Homo sapiens: one gene and its partners. The protein of the gene in region 3 purifies or fractionates together with the protein of the main gene of each other region. This does not show direct contact. Each region holds a gene or a part of one and is shown on either strand. Other genes may lie near its edges. The genes, in order: ACAD9, HEMK1, MTRF1L and CHI3L1.

What was found.
Region 1: the proteins of MTRF1L (region 3) and ACAD9 purify together in Homo sapiens (affinity purification with mass spectrometry; 2 studies listed by BioGRID and IntAct, with this or other methods). This does not show direct contact.
Region 2: the proteins of MTRF1L (region 3) and HEMK1 purify together in Homo sapiens (affinity purification with mass spectrometry; 3 studies listed by BioGRID and IntAct, with this or other methods). This does not show direct contact.
Region 4: the proteins of MTRF1L (region 3) and CHI3L1 purify together in Homo sapiens (affinity purification with mass spectrometry; 3 studies listed by BioGRID and IntAct, with this or other methods). This does not show direct contact.

What each region holds. Positions count from the first base shown.
Region 1 is NC_000003.12:128,903,600-128,910,623, reverse strand, and holds part of ACAD9 (complex I assembly factor ACAD9, mitochondrial), read right to left. Parts: intron 6,563-7,024; coding exon 6,492-6,562; intron 6,239-6,491; coding exon 6,119-6,238; intron 4,504-6,118; coding exon 4,375-4,503; intron 2,440-4,374; coding exon 2,360-2,439; intron 1,652-2,359; coding exon 1,525-1,651; intron 1,281-1,524; coding exon 1,203-1,280; intron 752-1,202; exon of another isoform or gene 604-751; coding exon 475-603; exon of another isoform or gene 361-474; coding exon of another isoform or gene 291-360; intron 1-290. UniProt on the Homo sapiens protein: As part of the MCIA complex, primarily participates in the assembly of the mitochondrial complex I and therefore plays a role in oxidative phosphorylation.
Region 2 is NC_000003.12:50,579,502-50,586,525, reverse strand, and holds part of HEMK1 (MTRF1L release factor glutamine methyltransferase), read right to left. Parts: intron 6,683-7,024; coding exon 6,587-6,682; intron 6,411-6,586; coding exon 6,297-6,410; intron 6,146-6,296; coding exon 6,109-6,145; 3' UTR 4,915-6,108; coding exon of another isoform or gene 4,827-4,914; 3' UTR 4,449-4,826; coding exon of another isoform or gene 4,433-4,448; 3' UTR 2,492-4,432; coding exon of another isoform or gene 2,476-2,491; 3' UTR 1-2,475. UniProt on the Homo sapiens protein: N5-glutamine methyltransferase responsible for the methylation of the glutamine residue in the universally conserved GGQ motif of the mitochondrial translation release factors MTRF1, MTRF1L, MRPL58/ICT1 and MTRFR.
Region 3 is NC_000006.12:152,992,688-152,999,711, forward strand, and holds part of MTRF1L (peptide chain release factor 1-like, mitochondrial), read right to left. Parts: intron 5,949-7,024; exon of another isoform or gene 5,943-5,948; coding exon 5,863-5,942; coding exon of another isoform or gene 5,839-5,862; exon of another isoform or gene 5,606-5,838; intron 5,467-5,605; exon of another isoform or gene 5,318-5,466; intron 2,633-5,317; coding exon 2,449-2,632; intron 1,990-2,448; coding exon 1,826-1,989; intron 288-1,825; coding exon 170-287; intron 1-169. UniProt on the Homo sapiens protein: Mitochondrial peptide chain release factor that directs the termination of translation in response to the peptide chain termination codons UAA and UAG.
Region 4 is NC_000001.11:203,183,683-203,190,538, forward strand, and holds the start of CHI3L1 (chitinase-3-like protein 1 precursor), read right to left. Parts: upstream 3,023-6,856; 5' UTR 2,942-3,022; coding exon 2,917-2,941; intron 2,664-2,916; coding exon 2,634-2,663; intron 1,704-2,633; coding exon 1,502-1,703; intron 951-1,501; coding exon 894-950; intron 128-893; coding exon of another isoform or gene 110-127; coding exon 1-109. UniProt on the Homo sapiens protein: Carbohydrate-binding lectin with a preference for chitin. Has no chitinase activity. May play a role in tissue remodeling and in the capacity of cells to respond to and cope with changes in their environment.

The DNA of each region.
Region 1 (7,024 bases), on a different chromosome or scaffold from region 3:
ACAGGAGTCACCCCGTCTTGGGTTCTAATTCCAGCCCTGATCCAACAGCCTTTCCCCAACAGCAAGTGACTCAACATCTCTGACCCTGTTTCCTCTGAAAGGCAGATGTCACAATCCTGGTATCTGCAGGTGCTCTGGAAAGTGCAGGCAGAGATCCTGGTATACAGTGGGTCCTCAGAGACTGCACCCGCCTCCCTCCAGCACAGCGGGCAATGTGCAGGGTCTGTCCCTTGCTGGGGGTAGGGGCACTGGGATCAGGAACCCCTGTCACTCACCCCCTCTTCTCTCAGTCAGGAAGAAGAAAGGGAACAGCCCCATCTCCTGAGCAGCACAGACCCTCCCACGGCCACCGCATGGTGAACCTGCACAGCCTCCCCCACACCCGACCACACCCTCCTCAACAATCAACTTCATTAAAGTGCAGCAGGACAGATGGCAGCAGCCAGGCCCTGTGTGAGGCTGGGCTGGGCTCACCTCGTGGTCGTGGTTGCGGAGCCCAATGCGGATGGAGCGGCTGGCCCGCGACAGCACGGCCGTCATGCCATACAGGTTGATGAGGATGTTGGCCACCCGCTTCAGTACCAGCTGCTCCTCCATGATGGTCTGGGATCACAGAGGCTCCAAGTGGGGACTCACTACCTAGACCAGTCCCCCACATGGTCCCTCCCTGGGCTGCATCTTTGCCTGTCTTAGTCTCCTGTGTTCCTTGAGAAAGTGGAGTCAATAACACCTTTCTCTTCAGGTTGTGGGAGAACGGCTCCCAGCCACCTTCTGTTTTCCCTTCTCTTTGAGCTCTAGATTCAGGGAGGGGTTAAGGCAAGACCAGGTCCCAGAAGCTTGGCTGAGACCAGAAGCCAGTGCTTACTGTGCTACTGCCACCTTCAGCAGCAAGGGCCCCACCAATCAGGTCCCTAGATTCAGGCCCCAGGTGGAGCTGCCCTCCCGATTCTAGGGAGCCTCTCTACCTGAAAGGTGCACAGAAAAACACTGCAGAAAACTCACCCAGCAAGGGTACCCATCCGAGTAGCTAAGTGGGCCCCAGGCTGACAAAGTCAGCCTGACCTCACCACCCCATCCCTCCAGGGTGATCAACATTTCTGTTCTAGGCCTGGTCCCAAAGGATGCTTGACAAAAAGTAGTCTCATGAATGCTGGCCAAATTGGAGGACCGCTTGCGACCCAGGCCTGGGAGGGCCTGGTTACCTTGCCAAAGCGGAGCAGCAGTGTCTCCACGGTCCGGCCGAAGCAGTAGGTGTTCTCCTCAAACTTGTTGGCACTGTCCTATTAACCAAGACAGGACTCAGTTCAGCACCTCATCCCTACAGTGCCCTGTCCTGTCTCACAGCCCGGGTACCAGGCAGAGATGCCCCATCTGGGGGAAGCAATCCAGGGTGTCATGGACTAGCTGGTGTTCCCCAACTTCCCCTGGAGAAGCCCAGACCCCCCACAGTGAGATCTTTTCTGCCACAAGGAGATCTGGCAGGAGGGCATTGAAATAGGGGGTATGCCTGTTAGGCCCACTCACCGCAAGACTGGGGTGCACAACTCCATGGTTGCCTGTCAGCCCCAGGTCCACAGTTCGGCCCAGGGAGTCCCGAAGCCTCCGGCCAACGGTATCCATGACTGTGCTCACTTTGGCCTGTTTAAGCTCACTGCAGAAAGTCCATGGTCCTGTGACTGGAGGCCTCGCTGCTGGCGCTCACTGTCCAGCAACATGGCCCATTCGGCACCCAGAAGCTCCGTGCCCCCCTCTGGCCTGGGTATGCTGGGCCCCTGGCTACAGCCTGAACCCCCCCAAACCCACCACCTGCCAGAGAGCAGCCAGTCTCCTCAGGGGAGCCACACATATGCTCCCCCATGAGGGGTGGAGTCACAGCCAGCTTCCCAGCAGCTGTCTCCTGTGAAGGAGACAAAATGCTACTAGCAACCTGTACTTGGCCTCCAGCAGTGATTTTGGATTACTGTGCCCCTAGGGTGGGGGTGGAGGGGAGCATGAGGGGAAGAAGGGCAGAGAAGAGAAACACTGGCTTATGTTGGCTGTGAGGCCTGGCACCTTTAAAGGGACACCTCTCATTCTTCAGGTTCTGAAAAACCAGCTGCCTCTAGTGTGAGGGACCAGATGGGGGATACGGTATTTATGCTGAAGCTGTAGGGTGCTGTGGCCATAAGGGCAGGGCAGCGAGGGCTTCCCTGGGCAGCAAGCCCCCCACTACCACAGGGGAAGGTCCCCTCCACAAGGCTGCGCCACACCCCCATGCCCCCACTCCAGGTCAAGGCAGCTCTTTCCTCCCACTGCCCTGGACTGGCCCCTGCTGGGCAGGTATGGGACCTGAGAAGCACACGGTGACAATGGCACCTACTGGATCCTGGTAGTCAGGATGCGGCCGGCATGCTGCAGACCCGTCAGGGCGATGTACATCCGGAGAATCTCATTGGTTCCCTGTGGTCAGTAGTGTAGAGGTCAAAGGCTGCCCCCCGGCCAGGCAGCCATGGTAGTGCCACGTGTGCTGGGTAGAGCCGGCCACTGCCTGCTTGCCCATTGCCACAAAAGCCACTGCTCCTGAAGTAGCTGGGAGCAGGGCTCTGGCCAGGGCTCAGGGAGTGCACAGGGATGAGGAGGGAGGTGACCAGATGGCCATGAGCTCCCACTGGGACCCCCCCACCTCTCCGTGACCAGCCTCACGTGTGTCAAGCCTTTCTCCAAGTCTCCAGGTCCTCTGTAAAATGGAAACCAGCTTTCCCCGGGTGGTGAGGGGTGCTGATGCCTGGGGCTCAGCCAGTGCCAGACAGACATTGCTGGCTCCAGGTGGAGGCCAGATTCCTCACGGAAGCCAGAAATTGCTGAGTGGCAGCTAGAACCTCCTCAGTGCCAGGTGTCAACACACCCAGAGGGCCACATGCTCCCCACTCCCCCAACCCATGATTCTGATCAGTGAGAGGCCAGTGGGCTTCTGCCCACTCTGCACAATGGTACTGTGTGTCAGGTGCAGGGGCCTGACCCAGGCTACACAGCCAGCACTAGGGACTGAGGACTGTCCCCTGCAGTCAGGCTGACATCACGGACAGCAGGACTCCCTACAGGAAAAGGGGGGACTGCAGGGGCCTCCTGGCAGGACCACCCAGCTCCGAGCAGGCTCCAGACAGGAGCTCTCACCCTACATCGAGAGCCCTGTGTTCTTCCAAGGCCTTGAGGGCTTCCTGAACCCTGCTGACCACCCCAGCCCTGGAGAACCCCAACCCTCCCAGGCTAAGGGAAGGGCCTTTGGAGAAGACCCTTTGCAGGGCTGAGACCACTCCAGTGCCCTCAGGCTGGCCCTTGCCCCGTATGTCCACTGCAACAGTGGAGATGGCTGGAACCCAATGGGTAGGCCAGGAACAAAAGCAGCCAAGGAGGCCTCCCACTGGGCAGGACGGCCCAGGAGACAAGACTACACTCCCAGAGGCTGATGATGCCTCTCATCACCAGACCTGCTGCTCAGGCCCAAACCCTCTCCCTGTCTCAGGCCTGCCTCCTGTATACCCATGCCCACCATCATATCCCACTCATCCTGCTGTGCTCTCTTAGGTCCAGCCCCTCCCTCCCAGCAGGAGAGCCCCTGGTCTCCGGCCTCATCCCTGCAACTCACTCTCCACATGAGCCCCGTCCACATGTCCAGCACTTGCTGAGCCCCTGGGGGCATTTCCCACAACACAGATACAACCAAATAATGCCCTGCTTAAAGACGTTTTGTGGCTTCCAAATTCCTCTGCTGTCAATCAAGGTCCTCCACAGTCTGGCTACTTTTTTAGCCTTCCCATATACCTTCTTCAACACCCCCAAACCCACTGCCTGCCCCAGCCCACCTAGCAGGGCTGACTGCTGCTCCCAGAAAGCCCTTCACTCTCTCTTCATTCACCTTGTGCCAGCAGATCAGTCCCATCTGGGCCTGGCGCGCTCTATTACCCTGCCCTTAGGGACAAACTGCCCTCCACCCGGCCCTGGTTGAAGCCCTTTCTTTCTGCCCCTAGGGGCCAGGAGCGCATGCTTCACAAAACTCTGGCTGCCTCTGGAGGATGCCCGCTCCCTGCCTCTTTACACTCTGTCATCTCCCTTGGTCGGCCCTGCTGCACAATCAGAACACAGCATCCGAAGTCATCTCTGTGGCCCCAGTTCCCTCCCCTGCCACCTGGCACATGCTAACTGAACTGACTCCTCAGGCTTGTGACTTCATGGAGGGCAGCAGTCGGGAAGGAGACGTGCCAGGGCTAGGAGAGCCCCTGAGAGCATGCGACCCAGCCCTGGGCTGCGGGGGCCTCTGCGAGGCCCTGAGCAGCATCTTTAGGACCAGGCAGGGTGGGGGTGGAGCACAGCTTAGCTGGTGGCGGGGCCACTCACCTCGAAGATGAGGAGGATGCGGGTGTCACGCAGTATGCGCTCGTACGGATAGTCCCTTGTGTAGCCCAAGCCCCCGAGGATCTGCAGCGCCTCACTCACACACTGCCAGGCGGCCTCGGAGCTGAACACCTGTGGGGTGTCACACTGAATCCTTTCCAAAAGGAGGACCTACGCTGCAGGGAGCTGGGTGGCTGGGGAGGCATGGGAGGCACACGGGCTTGGGGAGGAGATCGGCCAGGGAGGAACTTGAGGGGTGATGTGGTCAAGTCCTTTGCCTTCCGTGACCACACTGGCCAGCTTGTGTTCCCTACCCCACCATGACCTTCTGTACCTCTGGGCCTGCCTTCACCCTATCTGCACCTGGCTGAGCTCCTGTTCCTTTAAAACCCACCTAAGATCTCCCCTTCCCGAGAAAACCTGACCTGTTCCTGCCAAGCCCCAGCGGCCGTGATTTCTTTCTGTCTGTGCACACTATAAGTGCCTTGGGGGCAAACATACTGCCATGTTTAGCCCTAGGCTTAGCATCTGGAAGAGGCTGGCCTACAGCAAACTAATGTCTGTGGTCACTGTTCAAGGGTGACAAGAAAACGAGATGATAAAACACATGCAAATGCACCCAGTACACAGACTGCACCTAGAAAAGACTCAAACACGGTCCAAGATGCCCAGCCTTTTTGTTTTTAATTTTTTATTTTTTTAGGGACCTTGCCACTTCAGGATCCCAACCTTTTAGGTAGACTCTCCTGCCGACACCAGGATGTTTGCTTCTGTAAGCTGCCATACCTCTCACTATTTCTCTCAAGAGCTCAATTCCAGAGACCAGCTTAAAAACAATTGTGGGGGGCACAAAGTAGGGTCCCCCCAAGTGTGGCCATCTTTTTTATTACAGCTAAAAAATGACACCCTCCACCCTCAACAAAACAAAAGCAAATTCTAGTATCTACCTTAACCAAATAAGATGCTCTTCCCACCTCAGCCTCCCAGGTAGCAGGGACTATAGGCGTGTGCCACCATGCCAGCTAATTTTTGTATTTTTTGTAGAGATGGGGTTTCGCCATGTTGCCCAGGCTCATACATGTTTTTTGTTTTTTGTTTTTTTTTGAGATGGAGTTTTGCTCTTGTTGCCTAGGCTGGTGTGCAATGGCACAACCTCGGCTCACTGCAACCTCCGCCCCCACCGGGTTCAAGTGATTCTCTTGCCTCAGCTTCCCAAGTAGCTGGGGTTACAGGTGCCCGCCACTATGCCCGGCTAATTTTTTGTGTTTTTAGTAGAGATGGGGTTTTACCATGTTGGCCAGGCTGGTCTCGAACTCCAGACCTCAGGTGATCCATCCACCTCGGCCCCCCAAAGTGCTGGGATTACAGGTGTGAGCCACCGCGCCCTGCCATATGCTTAGTTTTTAAGATAAAGTTTTGATACCAGAAAGTAGGAAGGCCATAAACTAAGGAAAAAAGAAGTCTTTCTCACACAAGCCAGATGCAATGTTATTACTCTAAAAGGATATTATCATAACGGTCTCCTTCTGCTATAAACTACTGATCCACTGGCCCACTGGACACTTCCCTACTGCTGCTCCCCGCTGCCTGCCTATCCCTGGAGTGCTACACAGGGCAAGTGCATCATAAATACTGGATCAATGACAGGAGGAAGATGACAGGCAACAGCATGGGCTTGAAAGGTCACAGTGAGGGAGATTTCCCAAGCCTCCCTCCAGCGCCAGCTCTCTGGCTATGCCAGGGTTACCTTCACCATGGCTGCCTCGATGGAGCAGTCGGGAAAGCCAGGTTGGTCCAGCATCCCTGCTGTGAGGTAGGTCATACTCTCCATGACGTAAGCCTTCTGAGCCATCAGTGCAAATTTCTCCTGGAGTGTTCAGAAAAAACACAAGAAACAATTTGCATGTGCTGAGAGCCAAATCTGTGAAACAGGAGAGAAAGTAATTAAGTCAGAAGCCTCAATGCCCAAGAGAAGCAAGCCCAGTGACCCGTGTCAAATAAAGCCTTAACTAGTCTTCTTCCCAAATCACCACAGAAGTCACCAGTACAGAGACATCAAAAGAACACACCGTTCATGTCACACAGTGAAATGCACAAATACAGTACTCAACCATTGGTACCTGAATCAATCCAAATTCACTGAGCCTCTTGTTAAACTGTTTCCTTGTGCAGGCGTACTCAGCAGTCATTTCTGAGGAAGAGCAGAGTTATTAGAATGAACTGGAATATTTCTGTGGTTCAAACATGATTTCCTATGGCCATCATCCTTACCCTTCCCACAGGTGGGCACTGTGAGAAGCGTGTCTGCTGAGGTCAAATACCCCAGAAGCTGGCACCCCCACTTGCCAGCACCCGTGGGTCAGAGGAGAACCACCCCTCCTCATGGCACCCACACACAGAGTTTGGCATCAGATACAGACTTGAATCCTGGCAATGGTTCTTACAGGCTGTGCCTCAGGCCGAGTGCGACACCTCCCTGAACACCACCCCCACCTCAGAGTCGCTGTGAAGATGCAACCAGGTGGAAGGGGGAGGGCGCCTCGCACAAAGCCAGGCACAGAGGCCCCAGACAGAGGTGGTGCAGGCTCACACCCCGTGCAGTGACCAAAGCAGGTGGGGCCGCCTGGCTTGAATACTCAGGCTGGGGCTTCCA
Region 2 (7,024 bases), on a different chromosome or scaffold from region 3:
GTAGAGTGTTTGGGGAAGACCCCAGCCCCTGGGAAGGGGGCCACTTAGCCAGGCCTGCCTGCCACGGGGCATGGCTACTCTAAGCTGTCTCACCCTCCCCCTTTAGGCATAGCTGGGGCAGGTGGAGGTCAGCCCAGTTCAGGGCTTTCCATGAAGCTGAGGTAGGCTTCCCTGCCTTTCCCACTTTGTGAGCTGTAAAATTAGCCTTTCCTGACCATTTTCCTGCAGGACTGCTGTATGTGTGAGAGGTAGTCTTTGGAAGAAAAGGGGCCTCTAGAATTTGAAGCTTCTGATTTCTGGTTATGAGGCCAAAGATCCCAAAGGTCCTTCCAGACACCTCAGGAGGGCCCTGGGGGGCAGAGGCTGGGGGCTGTACAGCCAATTACCTCAGAGGGGAAGGCACCCACTCATTCCGCAAGCGGGGGAAATCCTGCTCTCCTCCCACAGCTACCAGAGCTTCAGATGGGACTCAGATCTGTCTGCACACCCAGGGCTACAGTTGGCCTAATGTGACTCTTACCTGCCCATAAACCTGGCCCAGAGGGCTTTATGGGCCAGAATCCCTGGGTTTAGTAGCTACATGGACAGCCATATGAGCACCACCTAATTGACTTAATTAACTAACCCCAGGCCTTTGGAAGCAATAGGAGATGAGAGCATCATACTGGGAGTCAGGAGTCAAGTGCTGTGTTACTTCAAGTAAGCCCCATCCCTCTCTGGGAAAAAAGATCAGGGATTGAATATAAGTCTTGCCATGATCCACCCCTTCCAGTATAAACAGGCCCTCCTGGCTTCATCCAAAGCGTATCCAGGTGATTTGGGGCCAAGCTGACCCTTGAACCCAGGTGTCCATGCTCTCTGTCCCCCAGCTTCTCAGCTCTGAAACCCAGCATGAGGCCCATGTCTGGCCTCCCAGTAGCTCTCCATGTGGCTCCTGGGTTAGGACTGGCTTCAGGAGCCCCAAGCCTTGGCTGGGTGGGATGGTGTCTCCAGAGTCCTTTAGTACCCCTGGAAAGGGAGGTCCTAGTCCCAGCTTGGACAGGGACAGGGCTGAGGGCACCAGTTGGCCAATTCAGTTTTAGGAACCAGGAGGTTGAGAACCCCAGGGATAGCCCCACTCCACCATAGGAACAGAATGGTGACACAGCTCTGCTCAGGCCTATGGCTTACATGGAGGGGCCAGGCCCATTAGCTCAAAGTCAGGGGCTGCTGTGCTCATTTCACAGATGCAGTACCTGCAACCCAGAGAGTACAGGGCCCCTGCTCATCCTCACACACCCAAGGGGTCCTGGGCCAGTCACATAACTCCACAGGAGAGCAGGAACAGGCTTGGTCCCAGTCTCTGAGGTCCTCTCTGGACCCAGTCTCTGGAGATGGGCCATGGAGGCCAGCCTTGCACTTTCTCCCCACATCCCAGTCCCATTCCTCACCCACTCCCTTCTGGGACCCATGCTGGTCAGTCTTTCAGTCTTCTCACTCTGGGAAAGGGCCACCTCTCTCCAAATATGAGTAAAAAAAGGGGGGGCCTGGGCAGTTTAGGTCTGAAGGTTGAGGAAGAGTTCCCCTGGCCACATCACCTATCAGAAGAGAGGTGGTTAAGGCAATTTATCATGACTCTCAAAATTCTTCCAGCCTCTGCCCATTTCCACGTTGCAATTCCAAAGCCACTTCAATCAGTAGGCGTGTGTTACAGCAGCACTCTAATTTGGGCACCACAATCTATATTCGTTTCCCGTGGCTGCTGTAACAAATTATCACACATGTGTTTTCACACATGTGAAAACAACACAAATTTATGATCTTACTGTTCTGGAGGTCAGCAATCTGAAATCAGTTTCACAGGGCTTAAAATCAAGGTATTGGCAGGACTGCATTCTTCTTGAGGCCCCAGAGGAGAAGAGGCTGTCTGCATTCCTCGGCTCATGGCTCTTCCTCCAGCAATTGCATCACTCTGACCTCTGCTTCCATTGTTACATACATTTTCTTCCGTCACTCTGACACTCCTGCCTCCTTTACAGAGGCCCTTGTGATTATACTCAGTTTACCTGAAAAATCCAGGATACTCCTTCCATCTCAAGATCCTTAATCACATCTGCAAAGTCCATTTTGCTATGTGAAGGTAATATAGTCACATGTTAAGGTTTAGGTGATTAAGACACTGCCATTTTGGGGGGTCACTGTTCAGCCTACCAGAGCAGGGGTAGAGTTGCTTTGACAGTCCCAAATCCAGTTCAGGGGGCTTGTCCAGGGCAGAAGGTCATGAGGAGGAGATCAGGTCACTGTCCTAGCCAGGACTCTGGCTGGGGGCTGGCTGAAGCCAAGAGCTCCAGGAAACCTGGCGCCTGCTCCTACTGCCGCCAAGGACAGCCTGTTCTCCTGGTGTGGCTGTTGCGCAGGGATCAGGTGCACTTGAGTCTTCGAAGTGGCCATTGCTCAACTTGAATGGCTGCCTGGGTCGGGCAGAAGGCCAGGTCCTCATGGCTTCCCATCCCTAATGACCGGAATACATGGGCTGCCAGGTCAGATGTGGGCCACATGGGAAGTCCCAGCTCTATTCTAGAAAATGCATGTACCATCAGCTTACTGATAGACATTTACTGAACTTGGGTATGCCAGATCCACAGGGGGCCCCAGAGATGAGGGGGATAAGAAGGTTTCTGAAGGCATGGTACAGAAGGTGCCAGCAGAGGTATGGGCTAGGGGAGGCAGGGAGAGCACAGAGCAGGCATCCTAAAGGAGGCAGCATTTGTGTTGGAGCTTGAAGAAGTGGATTGTTTGCACCGCCTGGGCAAAGGGAAGGTGTGTGTTCAGGGCATCGAGAGTACTGCACAAAGGCTGAAGCCCAGGGCAGTAGAGAAGAGAATCCACTAAGAAGGAGCCAATGAAGAAAAAAAAGAGAAAAGAATCGAAGGTGGATAGGGAAAGACATGCTGTCCCGCAGAGGTTAAAGGGGTTCTCACCTCAAGCCAGCAGTTCTCAAACCTTGTCAGCAGTGGAGCCCTTTGTTCTGATGACAGCCTACTCAGAGCACTGATGGGGCCTTGGGAGGGGCCCCCAGGGCTTTTCCCACAGTTGTCCTCCCCCACCTCTTCAGAACTGGATTCCATAGGACACAAGAGAACACACTTAAGTCATGGGGAGCCAGCTAAGTGTTTGGGGCAAGGATTGGGAGCAGCCAATAGCCCAGGGTCCAGGTGGGGGTAAAGGAGCAAAAAAGAGTATTTTTTGCATTTAGGGGGTTCGGGGCCTATTTCAATAAGGCAGCTGTATGAGACCCATGGAGAAACCCACTGACAACTGGGAAAAGCATCCAACTGTGAGACAAGGCCTCAGTTTCCCCAACTATCAGAAGAGGAGATAGAATTACTCTCCCAGAGTACATCAAACAGGGACTCCTACACTCCTGTCTATGCTCTGGGCTCTGGCTGAAGGAGGCTGCACGGGCAGTGGGCACATCTCTCAAGACCTCAGGGGCTTGCACAGCCTGGACTCCATCAGCTCCATGTCCTCCTCCCATTCTGCCTGCAAGTGCTCCTTGACATATGCTGGTGGTGGTGGGGAGGCTGTTCGAGTCTCTGGCTTTGGCCTCAGGAGCAAGGGAGGGGATAGGGCAGGTGGGCCTGGCTTTCCCTGAGCTAGAGCCACTGGCTGCCCTGGCCTGGGCCTCAAGGCACTGGGGCCATAGTGAGGAGAGGCTGAGGGGAGATGTAGGCTGCCAGGCTACCAGCCTGCTGGCTCCATCTCTAGACAACAGTGAGGAGTCAAGAGCCCAAGACTGAAACTCCTGCCTTCCCTTCTTTCCAGACTGCCTTGTATCCCTGCCTGCCTTATGTTGGTCCCATGCATCAGATGGACGCCTGAGGGCACTGGGTCCTTCCTCCCTGTGTCTGCCCTCCGAGGAAGGCAAGGAAAAATGCCACAATGTGCCAAGCCAGGCACATCCCATGGGCTCCTCACATGCATCCTATAAAATAAAGCATTAAGTCCCATTTCTCAGCCTTAGAAGCCAAGGCTGAGTGAGGTGAAGTCATCTGCCCAAGGTCACATCCTCGTGAGGGGCAGATTCTGGGATTGAAATCCAGGCTGGTGTGGCTCCAACATCTGGGCTCAACGTCCAGGGCCCAATCAAGCCAGTGGCTGCAGGCTTGAGGCCCCGCCTGCCAGTCCTCTTGGCTTGGACCTTTTCCTCAGCAGAGTCAAGCTGCACATTTTTCTGGGCAGAAAGTTGTGCCCGAGGCCGGCTCCTGCTTGTGGCCCCAGCTGCCCCGACAGTGTCACTCTCCAACACTGCACTCTCTTCTGGTGCAACATCCACAAGCTCGCCAAGGCCCTTCCTCAGGAATGGGCCTGAGGCCAGGAGGGAGAGACCATCAGGGAAGCCAGGACTGGCTGAGGTGTAGGGGGGCGACAGACTGCTCCGAGGTCAGGGCAGCTACCCTGAGATGCTGCTGAAGACAGCAAGAGCCAAAGGGCACAAGGAGAAAGACAGAAAGGGCAATACTGGTGAGGACCTTAGCAGGCAAAGGTCTGTGAGCATGGGGGACTAAGGAAGTGGGGAGCCTTGCCCTGGTTGTGCACCCCCTTCGCCCTCCCCACCCAGGTTCCTTCTGGAGCAGCCTCCTTAAAGGAAGCCAGGGGCAGCTCAGAGTCCATGCAGCTGGGGCTGGGCACAGGGCAGGACACTGGGGCACTGGGAGCTGCAGTGTGACCTCTACCAAATGTGTCCTCCAGCCATAGTGCAGGGCAACACTTAGGCTGGGTATGACTCCAGCAATATAGGCTCCCCAAAGGGAGGGATCTAACTTACTGTCTCCACTTGGTCACTGTCATGTGACCTCAGGCAGTACATACCTTCTCTTGCTCTCCATGCCTGGCGAATGGACATTCAGATGCCAGCATGCACATTCCACTTGACTAAGAGTAAAGAGGTTGCCAGTTGGCGTTGGCCCTGGACTCAGAAGAGCCAGCTTCTCATAGGGAAAGGAGTTGCCCAAGGTCCCACTGCAGGACACAGCCCTGGAACTCAGCTCTCCCAGCTGCAGCAGAGGATGCTGCCTATTGGACCATACTGCCCATCAGACCATACTGCCAGGCCCTGGGAAGTGCCAGGGTGGCAGGGGGCAGTCTAGTGGAATGAGACAGCCTGGTTTGCCATGTTTCTTAGGACCCACCCTGATGTAGGCTCACATCACCAGCACTCACCAACCTAGAGATTTCCTGTCGCTGTTGACAGGAAGGCTGGATCTGCAGGCCTCCTGGTGGCCATGAGTCTGCACAGACCAGAGCTGGGGTGGAGGCCACAACCCTGTGCCCAGTATCTCAGCTTCTCACTCTCCCCAGCCCCAACCAGGGACACATGGGTTATTTGAAACCCCAGGGGGTCAACTCGGGAGGGATGTTTTAGCTAAAAGCTATGGGGATAAAAAGGAAACACCCCTCACTGGCTCAAGCCTTCAGTTAAATGAACGTGGATGTGCGACCCAGGAACTGTGCAGCAAAGACCTCCAGACCCTCCCCTCCAGAAAGCAGGCAGTCATCCTTGAGCCAAAACGCAGATGAGCTTCCTGTGCTCGAGCCAGGCTTGGCCAGGGAATTGTGTACGCATGCACCCAGGGCAGTGGAGGACTAATCAATCCCTGGGAGTGAGCTGCTCTATGCCAGGACCCATGGTATCCAAGGCCAGGAGTGAGGACTCACGTGCCTTCCTCCACACTGCACCCCCACACCACTACCAAGCAGGGGACTGACGGCCAGCCCTGCTGGGGCAGAAGGAAACCCTTGCCCCAGTGCTACCTGGGAGTAAGGGGGTCAGGGGACCTGCAAGTCATGGACAAAACATTAGGTCACCATTTGTTAGTCTCTCAATACTTTACTGGCCATATCCCCCGATACCCCCACAGCAATTTCACCAACACAGAGCAACTGCCCTCAGCCACTCTGATGTGATGGAGCCAATCCAGGTGTCCTAGAAATATCCTAGAAATGCAGAGCATGGGGAAATCACAGAACCCTGGGAAATGCCATAAGAACCTGGGCTCTGGAAAGTGCCATCCACCTCCCCTCTGGTCAGGCTGGCGGCACTGACAAGGCATCCACAGGGCAGCCATGCTATGGCCCAGACCTCCGGATATGCAGGAACCGGGGCCTGAGGAGACAGGGACAGGGGCTGGTTACCACCTGGGCCTCAGGGAATGAACAGGAAGTGGGAACAGCACACTCTCCTGACAGCCAGGGCTGAGGATGGCCCCAGTGGAAAGACCAGCATGCTACAGGGCTAAAGGGGGCTAGGATCTTACCTCCCACAGAAGTCCCTGCGCACAGCCACAAGATTAAGGTACAGGTCAGGCCGGCTCTGAAGCCAGCTGCTGACAAGCTCCGGGTGCCTTGGGTCCACTTCTAAGAAGATACTACTACATGGGGGAGAAATGGGTGGGCTCAGCAGGACAGGTCTGGCGCCTGCCCTTCTGGGCTGCTTGGGCTGGCGAGGTGAGGGTCCTGTGCTGACCTCTGCCAGGGCCTGCCCAGTACACATTAGGAGCAGAGGAGCCTGCTGGGGACAGACCTAGGAGACCCATCCCATTCATACCCAGAGTCTTTCAGGAGCCGGGGTGCCAAGGCCAGAATGTGGGTAATGATGTCCATGCCCTCCTCCCCACCATCCAGGGCCGCGGGGTCTTCATAGCTGAAAGGCAAAGCAGTGGGAGGTGACAGCCTGAGAAAGGGGTATCTGAAATGCATGGAGGGCATGGGCAAGGCCTCCATGAATGGGGCCCTGTGGAACTTACACTCTGGGCTGAAGGGCAAATCTGAGGACCCAGAGAAGGAGGGCCCCAAATGGGTGGCAGCTCCTCTTCTCTTCCTCCCATGGGCAGCACCCTACCAGGCAGCGCCAGGCATGCTTGCTGAATCCCACTGGCTGATGGCCTCTCTTGATGCACTGACTCATGTCAGGGCATGAGTGTCTCCCCACAGGCTGCTCCTCTTCTTGGTCTGGGAGATCTGGGGCTAGCCCTGACCACTCCTG
Region 3 (7,024 bases):
TTATCCCACGGAGTATCAGGTAAGGATTCTAAGTAAATCAAATATTTAATAACAATCCTTAGAAGTATATACTTCTCTGGTAACCGAGGATCTATTTCAGTGGAAAATTAGTCATATTATTCCAAAATTGATTTCTTTGGTGTCATATATTGAAGGAATAAGTACACACCTGTTGGAAGATGAACTATCCGGACAGCACTGTCCGTGGTATTTACATGCTGCCCCCCAGCTCCACTGGCTCGCTTAGTGTCAATTCTCAAATCTTTCGGATTAATCACCAGATTAATCTATACAGAAGAAAAGTTGGGATTTTAAAAGATTACATGTATCAACTTTATAAAGGCAAGAGCGACCCATTTATGAATATACAACATGTACAGAATTCATATATTTGGGAGGTTTAATTTTAAGACTAGAGAGTAGCTAGAAGGATACCATTTTAAAACTTTTTTGCTTTTTGGAAGAGTAGGGAATCGAAATAGTACAGGACTGTACAGTTTTGAAAAACAAATCCTTTCTAGTCCTCAAAAACCTGGCTTCCCTTTATCCATTTCTTACCACAGAAACAGCAGAACTTGATACTATTCTGCCTACTTTTAGAACTGAATGTTTAAGGTTTTTTCAAATTTTTCTGAGTTTAAAGAGCCTAGCAGCAGGAAAAAAAAATGGTAGCGTGAGAACTGTGGGAAGGGTCTGTTTTGTTTTATTTCAAACATATTTGGAGGCAAAGATGAGCCAAATGGAAATGGGAGTGGCCAAGAAGTCATGAGTCTCAATTCCTCAACACACTGGGATCTGAGGTCAAGGTAATGCTTTGTCCTAGGAGCCACCATCAAAAGCACTGTTTCATGAACAACTAAGAACCATTCTGTGACATCTCTGCAATGCTGACAGTAAGAATCCTACCATTCTCTGGGCCTTCTACCTCTATGTCTCCCTGTGTTGACTCCCTCTTATGGTTGCTAGAGGAATTAGATGATACATGGACCTCAGTCTCTCATCTTTTCCTGAAAACTTCCACCCCAAGATGGTTAAACATAAGTGACTAGGTTTCTAGATGTGGCTCTTGCCATTTATTCTACTTTACTCTCTCCCTTAACTGCTTAGTTTCTCACCTATGCTTCACACAAAAATTAGATCTAAAGAAACTAAGACCTAAAGAAAGGAACTCCATTAAACCTATTACAGAGCCAAATAGCACTTTTTCCCAAAATTAGCATAGGAACCACTAAGAGTTCCTTCTCAAAGCATTCACACTTCATTCTGAAAAACAAGTCAGATATCTGCTATCACTTTTCAGTAGAAGGGAAATGAGGCAAAACAGAACTCCTACACTAAGTTATCTTAAAAATATAGACTGAGAATTTGCTTTGTGAGAATAAAGTATACTCATTATGAACAGTATAACAATATACTTTCATTTTAATGTAACTGGGTTATGAAGCAGCAATTCTGTTAAGTAATTACCTTTGTTAAATAGGATTGTTGCTGTTAATACCCCACAAACCAGTCACACAAGGCAGAAGTCATTATAAAGGCAACCAGTCCATATTTAAATAGGTTATTATTTCACCCACAGAGATGATCTCACAATAACTACTTATTAGGAAAATACTAATACACAGACAATGCAACATTGTATCATTTACAAATCCTTAATTTTTTAGCATTATAAAATTATATTTTTTAGACTGAGATAATATGCAACTCAAAATACACAAGGAAGACCAAATAGATACTCAATTCAGTAAACTCTGAATGTTAACTCTGGGGACAAGGCACTGTGCTAGGCCCGGGATTCCAAGGAGAGGGGCTTATGCCTTACCTCAGTAGGCTGGGGTAATATTGCTACAGTCATGGTGCTAGTATGGACGCGGCCTTGCTTTTCTGTCTTTGGCACTCTTTGTACTCTGTGAACACCTCCTTCAAATTTCATGTGCCTATAGGCTTCTGAACCCCCAATGCTGGCAGATGCATGTCTAAGGCCACCTTGAAAATACAGGGAAATAGAATTATTTTTATTATTCCTGCCATTTATAAATAATTGACCATCACATCTACTATCTTGAGGTATATTTTTAAAGTCATAAAAGGAGATGAACATGGAGACTGTAAAACATATTAAAATATTCAATGTTTTAATATTTATCTTTACTGCTTACAAGTACTAAACAAAGCATTTATGGGGCTAATCAGTTGACATCAGTAACACATCTAAGACTACTTTTAAAGACTGTTAGCAATTTGATGGTTAGTATTATTGAAAGACTCTCCATTAGATTTTATAGGTCATCTCAAAATTACTGTATGTGCATTCAAATTTATTAGGTAAATGATGAGCATAAAACTACATAAGCATCCTCACAGATAAGTTCTAAAGCCTAGTCATGGTCTTTCCAACTCTTTTCCTAAACACTTTACCTGAAACAAAATGAATAGTTTACTGACCTAGTTCACTTGGAAAATATTCCAGGGTTTCAAAATGCCATCTTTTAAATGCAGCATATTGCTGATACATATCAAATATCTCTGATGTAAACAACATTGCCTCCTGACCTCCAACTCCTGCAGTTACTTCCAGGATCAAATCATTTTCATCTGTTTCTTCTGAGGGAACCAAAAGTAAGATAATCTGTAAATATAAAAATATCACCCCTCCTATAATTAAGATTTAAAATTTATCAAAAAATAAAAAGCTAAATGATTCAGGAATTTTAAATATTTAAGTTTCGCCAAGCAAATAATGTAATATTGCTGAGTACTGTTCAACCACCTTGCCAATTAGAACTGTATAATGTGTAACTTCCATAAAGTATTAATGTTACAACCATATTATAAATGCTGTTAAGATTCAGCTAAAATTTCAGGCTTGTTTTATTGTCTGTTGGAGTTCTTGTATGCTTTGTATCAGTTCTCTCTTCAGTTAATAAGAACTAAGTACTTGCTCTGATTCGGAGATTATACTGTTGTGGAAAGCAAAAGAAGATTCTAGATCCATCCTCTTGAAAATTAAGGCCTAGTATGGCAGAAAACCAAAAGCACTCAAAACTACATTTGTATTATTTTAAGATTTCTTATTATGGAAGAGAAACTTGTAATTTTGAAACTAAAAAGGCCCTTAGAGATTATCTGGTCCAATTCTTTAATTATACATGTAAAGGAAACAGAGCTTAACAGAGATTAAATGACTTGTTTAAGGGCAAAGTGTTAGTTACTGGCCAAGCAGGCACAAGAACACAAACCTTTGTGCCTAGATCAGTCTTCCCTCCATTACAATAGTGTGTTTCTAATCAAGGGGATCTAGAACAAACACTTCTTAGATTAGGTCAATTAATAAGAAAAGCTACCAACATTTTATTGGTTCTTTAATATATGGCAGGCATTCTAAGCACTGTACATACTGTAATTCTTAAAACAATCTTGGGTAAGTATTATTAACAGTTCTACCTTAAGATGTGAAACTAATTTTACAGGGGTTGAATAATCTAGTGGCTCAACATTACCCAACTCAAAAGTTAAGTGGAAGAGCTAGAATTGAACCTGAATATACCTGAGTACACTGCTATCACACTTGACATTGGTCAGAAGCTATGCTAGTTACTACTTTTCCATCTCTCTAGCCTATGCCAATACAACATTATCATTCAAATTTTGAACAAATAATGGATTTTACTTCTGTTTGTTGATTACTAGACACTGAACAGAAACATTTAATACACATATCCTTCTTATTCACACAAAATTTAATTTAGAAAATGGGTAAAATGCGAGCTATACTACACTTTTCACCTTATAGTGGAATTCTCCCCCTCTAACATAGGTTATAGGAACATTAATTTTTAGTAATTTTCACATTTGCCTAAAGGGGAAGCAGATTCTCAAAAATAAGTACCCCCTTTCCTGGCTCCTTCCTTACCTAACATATTCTTTCACTTATCCCCAACGGTAATTGCTGTCAACCTTTAGTCTCTGCTTTACAGAATTAGCAAAGAGTGGCTCTAATTTCATATAATTATTCTTCATTAACTCTATATGTTCTGTAATTCACAAAGATGTACAACCAAAGCAATGTAATCCAATTCTTAAAATCGTGAGGGCTTACTCTAGGTCTGGTATTCCAAATAGTGTCAGAGATGCAAAATAAGTATTCCTGGCCCTGAGGAGCTCACAGTCTACTATCACTCTAACAGGGGACTTCAAGAAGTTGTATTTCAAAGTTATTTTGTAACAAAATAAACTCGTGCTAACTTGTTATAACAAGTCACAGGCTCTAGTTTGAGGTACTAAAAAGGGTATCAGTTTGCAAAGAGCCCCATCAGAGCAATATGAACTCTGTTAAATTGAAGCAAGAACAAACATTAAATTGCTGGTGAAGCTTGGGTGGAAGAATGGTGAAATCATTGATGCTTTATGAAAAGTTTATGGGGATGATGCCCTGAAGAAATCAGCAGTTTACAAATGGATAACTCATTTTAAGTAGAGACAAGATGATGTTGAAGAAGAAGTCCACAGTGGCAGACCATCTGCATCAATTTGTGAGGAAAAAAATTATCTTATTCATGCCCTAATTGAAGAAGACTGATGATTAACAGAAGAAACAATAGTCAAACCACAGACATCTCAACTGGTTCAGCTTATAAAATTCTGACAAAAAAATTAAAGGTGAGCAAACTTTCCACTGGATGGGTGCCAGAACCTTTGCATGCAGATCAGCTGGAGGCAAGAGCAGAGCTTTCAATAGAAATTTTAAACAAATTGGATCAAGATCCTAAAGCATTTCTTTGAATTATAACCAGAAGTGAAACATGGCTTTACCAGTATGATCCTGGAGACAAAGTACAATCAAAACAATGGCCACCAAGAGGTGGAAGGGGTCGAGTCAAAGCAAAAGCAGACTGGCTAGGGGCAAAAGTCATGGCAATAGTCTTTTTGGGGATTCTCAAGGCACCTTGCTTATTGACATTCTAGGGGCCAAAGAACAGTATCTGCTTACTATGAGGGTTTTGAGAAAGCCAGAGTTTTAGCAAAATACCAGGGACAGCTTCACCAGAGTCCTCTCCTACACCAGTGCTCCTGCTCATTCCTCTCATCAAACAGGCAATTTTGAGAGCTTCAATGGGAAATCCATAGGCACTCATGTTACAGTCCTTATTTGGCTCCTCCTTTTTTTTGTTTCCTGATCTTAAAAACTTTGTAAAGGGTACCCATTGTTCTTTAGTTAATAATATAAAAAAGACTACATTGACATGGTTAAATTCCCAGGACCCTCAGTTCTTTAGGGATGCATTAAATGCTGGTATATCACCTTTTTGCTTACCAAAGTGTCTTGAACTTGATAGCTGGTGGCACTTATGTCAATAAATTAAAGTTTATATATATATTTTTTTATCTTTTAATTCCAGTTTTCCACAAACTTTTGAAGTCCTTTCATATAACCTCTTCTGCCCCATGTCTACCTCCAGTCTTCTTAAAAAAAAAAAAAAAAAAAAAGGGAAGATATGCCACTATTTCGCTGCCTTTCCAGAAAATACTATCACTGTGACATTTATCTTTCTGTGAGAGCGCTACAGTACTTTTAGTATGATGAAAACAGGACCATGTGAAGTTTGTTCTTTAAAAACCAGTTTATTGATAGTCATAATCATTTCAAAATGTATGCATATATCAAAACATCACATCATATACCTTAAATATATGCAATTTTGGGGGTCAATTTATACCTCAATAAATCTAGAAAATAAATTTAAAAAACCCAGTTTATTCTAAACAGTAACAAGCTAGTCACTTGTTTTTATAAACCTTTAATAAACTTTAATGCCTAAGAATAGCACAAATGCTTTATTCTTTGCAGAAATACCATACCTGATGCTTCAGCTGAGTTATTTCTTTTTGACACAAAGTGATTTCATTCTCTGCAAGTTTCCTTAAATCTTCATTCTCATCTAGGAAAAAAAGGGCAGAAGTTAAGGTTTTCCTTAATTAGTGTTAAATTGCTAGCAGACTTCTAGGAAATAGTTTTATGGTTATTATAGCTGAAGGGAAAAATAAAATGTATATCTTGTCCTTTCAATAAATACCATTCAATAAATGCCTTTCAATAAATGTCCTTTCAATCAATTTCACCATTTTATACATTAGTTTTCATAAGCATGTAAGTATAAAATTTTTTTTCTGATAAAGTACAAGTACAAATTTCTATAAAAATATAAAGAAGCTAAACTCTTCCATAATTTCATCTCCATGAAATATTCACCTTAATAAATATGCTTTTAGACTTCCAACTTAGACTGTATAATAACGAATGCATTTAGCTAATAAGACAGAAGGGATACAGAAGGTTACACCAGTAAAACTAAAATTCAATTAAAAAGTAGAAATTTATTCTCTTATAAGCAAATGTTTCATTAGTATTTTAGTATCCACCCAAAAACATTTATTAGATTCTGCCTAATGTATACAGAATGTTTATACGAAGTACTCCTCTGTCTCTCTCTCTGGCTTTACCTTTATTGTTGTTTCATCTTTGAATTTTCATTTTTACCTTATAAAACATACTTTCTCATTCCTCTACCCTATAGATGATATGCAGCATATATAAAGGAGGAGGAAAGGGAAAATTTCTGGCTATTAACAAATTGTTCTCTCTATTGAAAGTTCAAACCCTTACAAAGCATCAGTTTGTATGCTTATCTATTAAGAAACAACCATGCTGGGAAGTGGGATAATACATATATAAGACCTGCCCTCAAGAGAGCATTATAGATAATTTTAGTTTCCTTATATTTTTCTAGAAGAGAAAAACAAAAAATAACCTAAACCCTTATGTGACATGGTTTGGCTGTGTCCCCACCCAAATCTCATTTTGATTTGTAGCTCCCACAATTCCCACCTGTTGTGGGAGGGACCCAGTGAGAGGTAACTGAATCATGGGGGCAGATATTTCCTGTGCTGTTCTCATGATAGTGAATAAGTCTTACAAGATCTGATGGTTTTATAAAGAAGAGTTCCCCTGCACAAGTTATCT
Region 4 (6,856 bases), on a different chromosome or scaffold from region 3:
GTAGAGCCAGGCAAGGTCCAGCCCATCAAAGCCATGGGTGCGCAGAAATGGCGGTACTGACTTGATGAAAGTCCGGCGACTCTGGGTGTTGGAGGCTATCTTGGAAAATCTAGGACCAAAATCAGCCCTGTAGCATGCTCAGCACTGATATGCTAGGTGCCTTGGGCCTCTGGTGGGGTTTCCAGGACCTGCAGAGCTGGGATCCTGAGGCCACACAGCTCTGGGAGGGCATGATTGGGACAGGGGTCGCCTCCAGGCATGCATGTGCCTTAGAGCCAGGCATTCCAGGTTTCCAAGTCTGGCTCTATCACTTACTAGCCAGCCACTGTGAAAGGTTATAACCTGAGTCTCAGTTTCATCATCTGTAAAATGGGGACAAATATAACAGCTCACCTTGCTGTTGTGAGGACAACATGGGATCATGGGGAGACAGGGTGCTGGACACAGAAAGAGTACCCAGCACATGGGTGCCAACGATGGCCATAACCACCCCCATTTCAAGCCCTGCTCCAACCCCACCTAATCCAAAGACTCCTCCCAGGGTCTCCCCACTTCTCAATGTCCCCATTGGTTTCCATCTCTCTCTTTCCAGCCCTAATGGTGGTAGCCCCAGAAGTCCCATATTTTCGGGCCTGTGAGGTAGTAAATAGAGCATTGGCAGGGAATTGGGAGATCCACTGTTAACTTGCTGTGTGACTCTTGGCAAGTCCTGCTCTCTCTCTGGGCTCTGCTTTCTTTGCTACACATCAGGCAGGCCCTTGACAAACAGGTAGGCCTTGTACCTATCTAGTCTGGAGCCCCTGGAACATCCATACAGTGGATGCGGGAGACCCAAGCTCCTCACTCCTATGCCATCATCCTCTGCCGTCCTGCCCCTGGGGAGAGGCTCCTACCTTTGAGACCCAAAGTTCCATCCTCCGACAGACAAGAGAGTCTTCAGGTTGGGGTTCCTGTGGAGCACAGGGAGGTGGGGAGGGCAGGAGTGGAATGACATTGTCATGACACTGGGTGGCCCCATGTCTGAGAGGCCATAGAAGGTTTCCTGCTTTGGGTGAGAGGCTGGGTTAGGCCGCTGATGTCCTCCCATAGGACATCATGGGAATCCCATAGAGATTCATAGTGGTGGATCTCTGAGGGGTCACAGGCTTCATGGGAGTTACTCTGAGGTCTGCTGCCCATTTTTGTTTTCCCCAGTGGAGAAGACAGAGTATGGCAAAGTAGAGTCTTGCTCATTTTCCATGCTCCCTGGAGAGCACGTTAGGGGCAGGAGAGGGTTCCCCTCTCCCAGAGGGGCTCAGCTGCGCTTCCGTCTACAGTCTCTCATCACCCCAAATATTGCCCAGCACCTACAGTCATCCCCTCCACCCATTTAAGCCAAGCCCCTCTAACTCTCCAAACATAGGTGAGCAGGGTGGGGCCTCGCCCTTCCTCCTGGGTGGGGTTGCCCTGCCCTGGGACCAGCCCAGCTGGTCCCTCCTCTCCTGGCCAGCCCTGGCCCAACCTGTTCTTGAGTGTGTTGAGCATGCCGTAGAGCGTCACATCATTCCACTCCCAGGTGTCGATGTGATCGTTGCTTATATTGGCAAAGCTGTAGATGATGTGGGTACAGAGGAAGCGGTCAAGGGCATCTGGGAAGCAGCTCCCATCGCCTTCCCGGTACTGGGACCAGCTGGTGTAGTAGCAGACCAGTTTGTATGCAGAGCCTGAAGGAGAAGTCTGGGATGGGGCCCGGGCCAGGATTCGGCAAGAGACCTCAGGCTGAGCCCAGAGCTGAGCACCAATGGGGTGTGGGGTTGGGTAGGGAGGAGTGGGGTGCAGATTGTGAGCAAAGTCAGAATTCTTAAATGAAAGGAGCTGGTTCAGGTCCCCCTGCCTCTGGGGAGTTCCCTGACTGGTGAAAATAAGGCCTATTCTGAAAATGCTTAGAAAAGATCCAATGCAGGGGATGAATACGCTACAGGCACTGTGTGGGGGAAGGGTAGGAGCTGGGGAATAAGGATGAAATGGGACTTGGTGCCAGCACAGCAGGCTTCCTGGAAGCAGTGGCTTTGTGGGAGGGGAAGGCCCAAGATAGCCTGTGTCACAGATGGCCCTGGCTTTCAGGCTGGCACCTTTAGTGACCTGCAGTGAGGTCCTTCATCCATGAGGGACTCTGGCCCACCTTTCTCTGCCTCCTGGTGAGAGTGCCTCTAACTTGTAACCCACCCGGAATGGCAGTCCTGTGCTCCCTCGGCATGTCCCCCAGGCTGGGGCACAATATCACAATGGACCAGGAAATCCTTCCTCGCCTCTAATTCTGTTTCTCCTGCTGCAAACAATGTGGGCATCACTCATCCAAGCAGCTACTGGGCAACTGTACTAGCGGCTCCCAGGGGCTGTTAGTCAAAGCCTTCACTGAACCAGGACCTTTTAAAGTTTCTTATTTTGAGAATTTTCACATATACCAAAGAGTATAGCAAAATAAACATCCATATACTCCTCACTCCAGTTTAGCAAACGTGACTATTTCGAAGTCATTGGAAGCACAGAAGAACCTGGCAAAGTGTTCCCTTGGAGCTAAGACCTCCTCCACACCTGCCCTGTGCCCTCGCCACGCCTCTGGACTTAAAAGTGGAGGTGGAGGGATTACTCACAGCACTGGAGCAGCACCAGGACCACAAAGCCTGAAGAGAAATCCAGGATGAGACCCCTGCAAGTGCATCCTGCCCTTCCGCCCTGCTCCCTCCCCCAAGCAACTGAGACCCACCTCCCCCACCCCCACCTCCTGGTTGCAGCCTCAGTCCCTCCCCTGGCTCTGCTTCTCCTCCCCCTCTGCCCACTCCCTTAGTCCCTCACCCAGCAGGCAGATGGCTCTGCGGGCTGTCTGGGCCTGAAAACCCACAACTCTGATGGATTAACCTTGGCTAGCCCAGATACCTGTTTGAGACGCCTTCACACCCATTCTGGCTGCAGCAGAGCAGGGCAGGGTGTGGCCTCTTCCCTTGCCCACGGCTCCTGGTGCCAGCTACCTAGACAGGGCCTCTTCCCCAGGCCCTGTACTTCCTTTATATACCTGTCCCACTCCACTCCCCGACGCGGCAAACCAGCCCTTTTATGGGAACTGAGCTATGTGTCAATGAAGGAATCACGAGGCTGGCAAGTGGAGGCGGGGGAGTACTATGGATTACCAGAGGAGGGTTGAGAAACCGCAGAGTTTTGAAAACTTTGGGTCAGGTCTTCATGAGGCACCTGCCAGCAGAAGAGCCACTAGGGTGATGATGGGGGGCTTCTGGAGATGTGACTCAGCCGCATTTCCCAGCCTTCCTCCCACTCCTGCACCCCACCACTGGCCTTTCTTGCCAGCAATTTCCTGGCTTTTCTGGCAGCCTCTACCTTTGCATCTTCAGCATTCACTCCAGGCCCCTGGCCAGGTGGAAACTGGGCACAATTTAGTTACGTAAGCCACAGTGCCCTAAACAAGGCTGTTGTTTTCTTCCCAGGCTCAGCATTGCCCTGCTTGACCTACCTTCCTACCCTCCCCCTCACACTTTCTGTCTTCAGGCTGGGTAAGGGCCAGAGAGCCTCGGGAGGAAGGAAAGCAAAGAGCCTGAAACTGAGCGCTCCCTTTTGGGCCCGTGTCTTTTTTTTTTTTTTTTTTTTTTTTTTTGCAATTTACATGCTGATTATTTAGAGGGAAAGACAGGGAAATTCCCAAGAATGCTTTAAGCCCCGGTGCTATTTTGCTTCTGTTTTGAAATTCCCATAAAGAGAGAGGATCTTTTGCAAGCTCGGTGCTGCAGTGAGGCACCATGGAGGAAATACAGGCCCTACGGGGCGGCTGCACGAGCATCTGACATCAGTCAGCTCCCCAACTCTCTCAGTGAGGCTTTGGAACCCAAGCCTGATGATACAGCCCCTCTCTAAATCCTTCAGTGATCTCTCATCACTCCTAGGACAAGAACAAAACTTCTTAACGAGGCTCCCTGCCTGATTACGTCCCTGTTTGTGGATACATTTTTTTTTTGGCCAAATATCCAGGACAACTCCATTCTTTGCAGGCTTAACATTAATTAATAGGCAGTGAGTGAAAAGTTCAGAACTCCAAGAGGCAGAATGGGTCCAAGGGCTTCTCAAGAAAGTACCTTTATTTTTCACTAATGTTAGGTAATACTCTAATTTTTCCAGGCTGGTTTTGCAGCTCTCTCGGTGAGGTCTCTCTGCTCTCTCCCTCTTCTCTCCCTCTCTCCCTTTCTCTTCCTTTAAAACTCAGCCAGTGCCTTCCCTTCATTGTAAGAGAGGTGGACAAAAAGTGGCTTGTCCAGAATCACGCTCGGTGAATACTAAAGAGGCATCACTTTTCCTTTTTAAGATGACTGCCTCCTTTTGTACCCAAGATGATTGACAGCAATGACAGTCAATGATAGCTTCTTCTGGTTCATTTGGGGCACTGAGAGGAGGACTTCTAATTTCTAATAGTGATATTATGAAGTGGCATGCAGATGCAAAATTTTTCATCACAGAGCACAGGATGTTAAGAAAACACCTCCTATTTTCACTATCTCCCTTTGTTAAAAATTATTTCATAGGCTTAGATTGGCCCAAGCCTTGTTGTCCTATGCTCCCTCAAGCTCAGTTTATTAATTCCACATGCTCTGCCTGAAGGCAGCTTTGTAACAACAAATGGCCAAGATACCCCCAGGCCTGTGTTAGCAGGATTGGCCAAGGGTCTCATAGGCTCACCACCTCCCAGCCTTATCTCAGGCCATGACCCCCACCCTCCCTATATTCCACTCATGCTTATATGTCTTCTTTTAAATCCTTATATTTGCTCTACTGACTCCCGCCACAGGGCCTTTATATATGACATCCACTTGCCTGTAAATAACGATGAAAGATCTGAGATTTTATGCTACTTGCAAATTAATGACATAACTACAGTTTCGTGGATGTTGGCAGAAGACACGAGACTCCTAGGTCAGAGACAAAGGACTTTATTATCCATGGTACAGCAAGCAGCATGAACTTCATGTTAGGGTCAGTTCCCCTTAGCCCTCAGGTCTCACAAGGGCAGTGTTGGAGGAGCCCAGGTAGATGCCATGAATGCAATGAGTTACATCACAGCAGAGGAATCCCTAGTTTAAGGAACTCAAATCTTTCATGATGAGCAGTAAGCCTTCCTCACCTTGGCCAGCCCAAGATAAGGGAGACATTATCTTTATTACTGGACAGTAAACAAATCTGCCTTTTGGTCTGGAGGGGGGACGCTATTTCTATCTTCCAAGGCTGTTTGCTGTACAAACATCACTAAAAAGATTGCCTAGAACAAAGAAGCCAGTGCCTCTGCACATAAGCTGTGCAGGAAATGCAGGCAACCCATGGAGAATTGCGGTTGGAGAATTGCGGATGGAGAATTGCAGCCTAACACTGCTCTTCTTTGACTGCTTTATTCTTCCTCATCCTTCAGATTGCAGCTCAGGAGTCACCTTGTCTGCAGAAAAGGCAGTCTCCAGGTGACAGAAAACCCGCTATAGGGCTGTCAGAGCACTTTGTACCTCTCTCCTTAACACCTGACTCAGTTATAATTTTATATGTTGTGTGTGGCAGTGGATGTTTTGTTTGCCTCTCTCACTAGACTATAAACTCAGTAAAGGCAACGGCTGGGTCATTTTATCCACCTTTGTATCTATCCCCAGTGCTTGAGACATAGTAGATGCTCAGTAAAGTACTCGTTGAATAAATGAACAAATGATCTCAAAATGGTGCATAACTTCACACTCTTATGAGTTTAAACCCTGATGTTCTCAAAATTTCATCTCATTCAATAGTTTTTGTTACCCTGTGAAGAACTGACTCAGGAGGTGCCATAAAACCACAAAACAAGCTTCCTGACTTAATTTCCCTAATCAAACATTTCTAGGCCCCACAGTACATTGATAGTGTTCAACCAATGTTTATTAAGTAAGTGTACTAGAGTAGTTGCCTTCCACTGAGGTAGACAGTAGAGACAGAAAGGTGAATGGGAACAGAGAGGCAGTCCCTGTCCTCATGAAGCATACAGTCTGGCAAAGAAGATGGACATTAAACAAAGAAAAGCAAGTAATGTATTACGAAGGAAGGGCAGGTGTTAGTCTGCCCCTTGCCCACCGTCCCCTACACACAAAAAAAATTGTGCAAAAACCTGGAGCAGGAAGAGGTTGTTATGTTCAGGAACCAGAAGAATTCAAGAGTGGTTGAGGCATGGAATTAGCAGGAGGGAGCTCGAGGGAGGCACAAGATGAGTCTGGATCAGGAGCCAGAGGGTGGACATTACCACCATTCAGAAAACAAGCTCCTGGGAGCCTGGGCTGGCCCCTTGGGCACAGTGGTTTTGAGGATTCCTTCATTTTGCATGGCGTGTCAGAGCAAACAGAGGTGGTGTTGATGCCCCACCAAATGCTTGAGGAGAATTCTCTCTTTTACAAGTAGTCTCTTCCTCCAGAGGGTGGACTTCTGCCAGGCAGGAATTCAAATCATCTCCAAATCCTCAGCTCGGTGGTGGTGCTGGCGCACAGTAGAAGCTGTCGAAGACTCAGAGGCAGAAACACTTAGAGAAGAAAACAGTTGCTTGTGAAAAGCGGAAGCGAGTCAGATTTCAGAATGGCTGGCTCGTCAAATGCAAAATGCAACAAGTATTTGAAGGGGAAAAAAAAATGACCCAAGGTTATCACGTTTGGTGGAGATCAGCATCATTTTTACAACACATCTTCACTTATCAGCATAGCAAAAATCAGGGATGAAATTGTTTTTTTCGGGGAATTTTTTTTCTTTTTGAGACAGAGTCTCACTCTGTCACCCAGGCTGGAGTGCAGTGGCGTGATCTGGGCTCACTGCAGCTTCG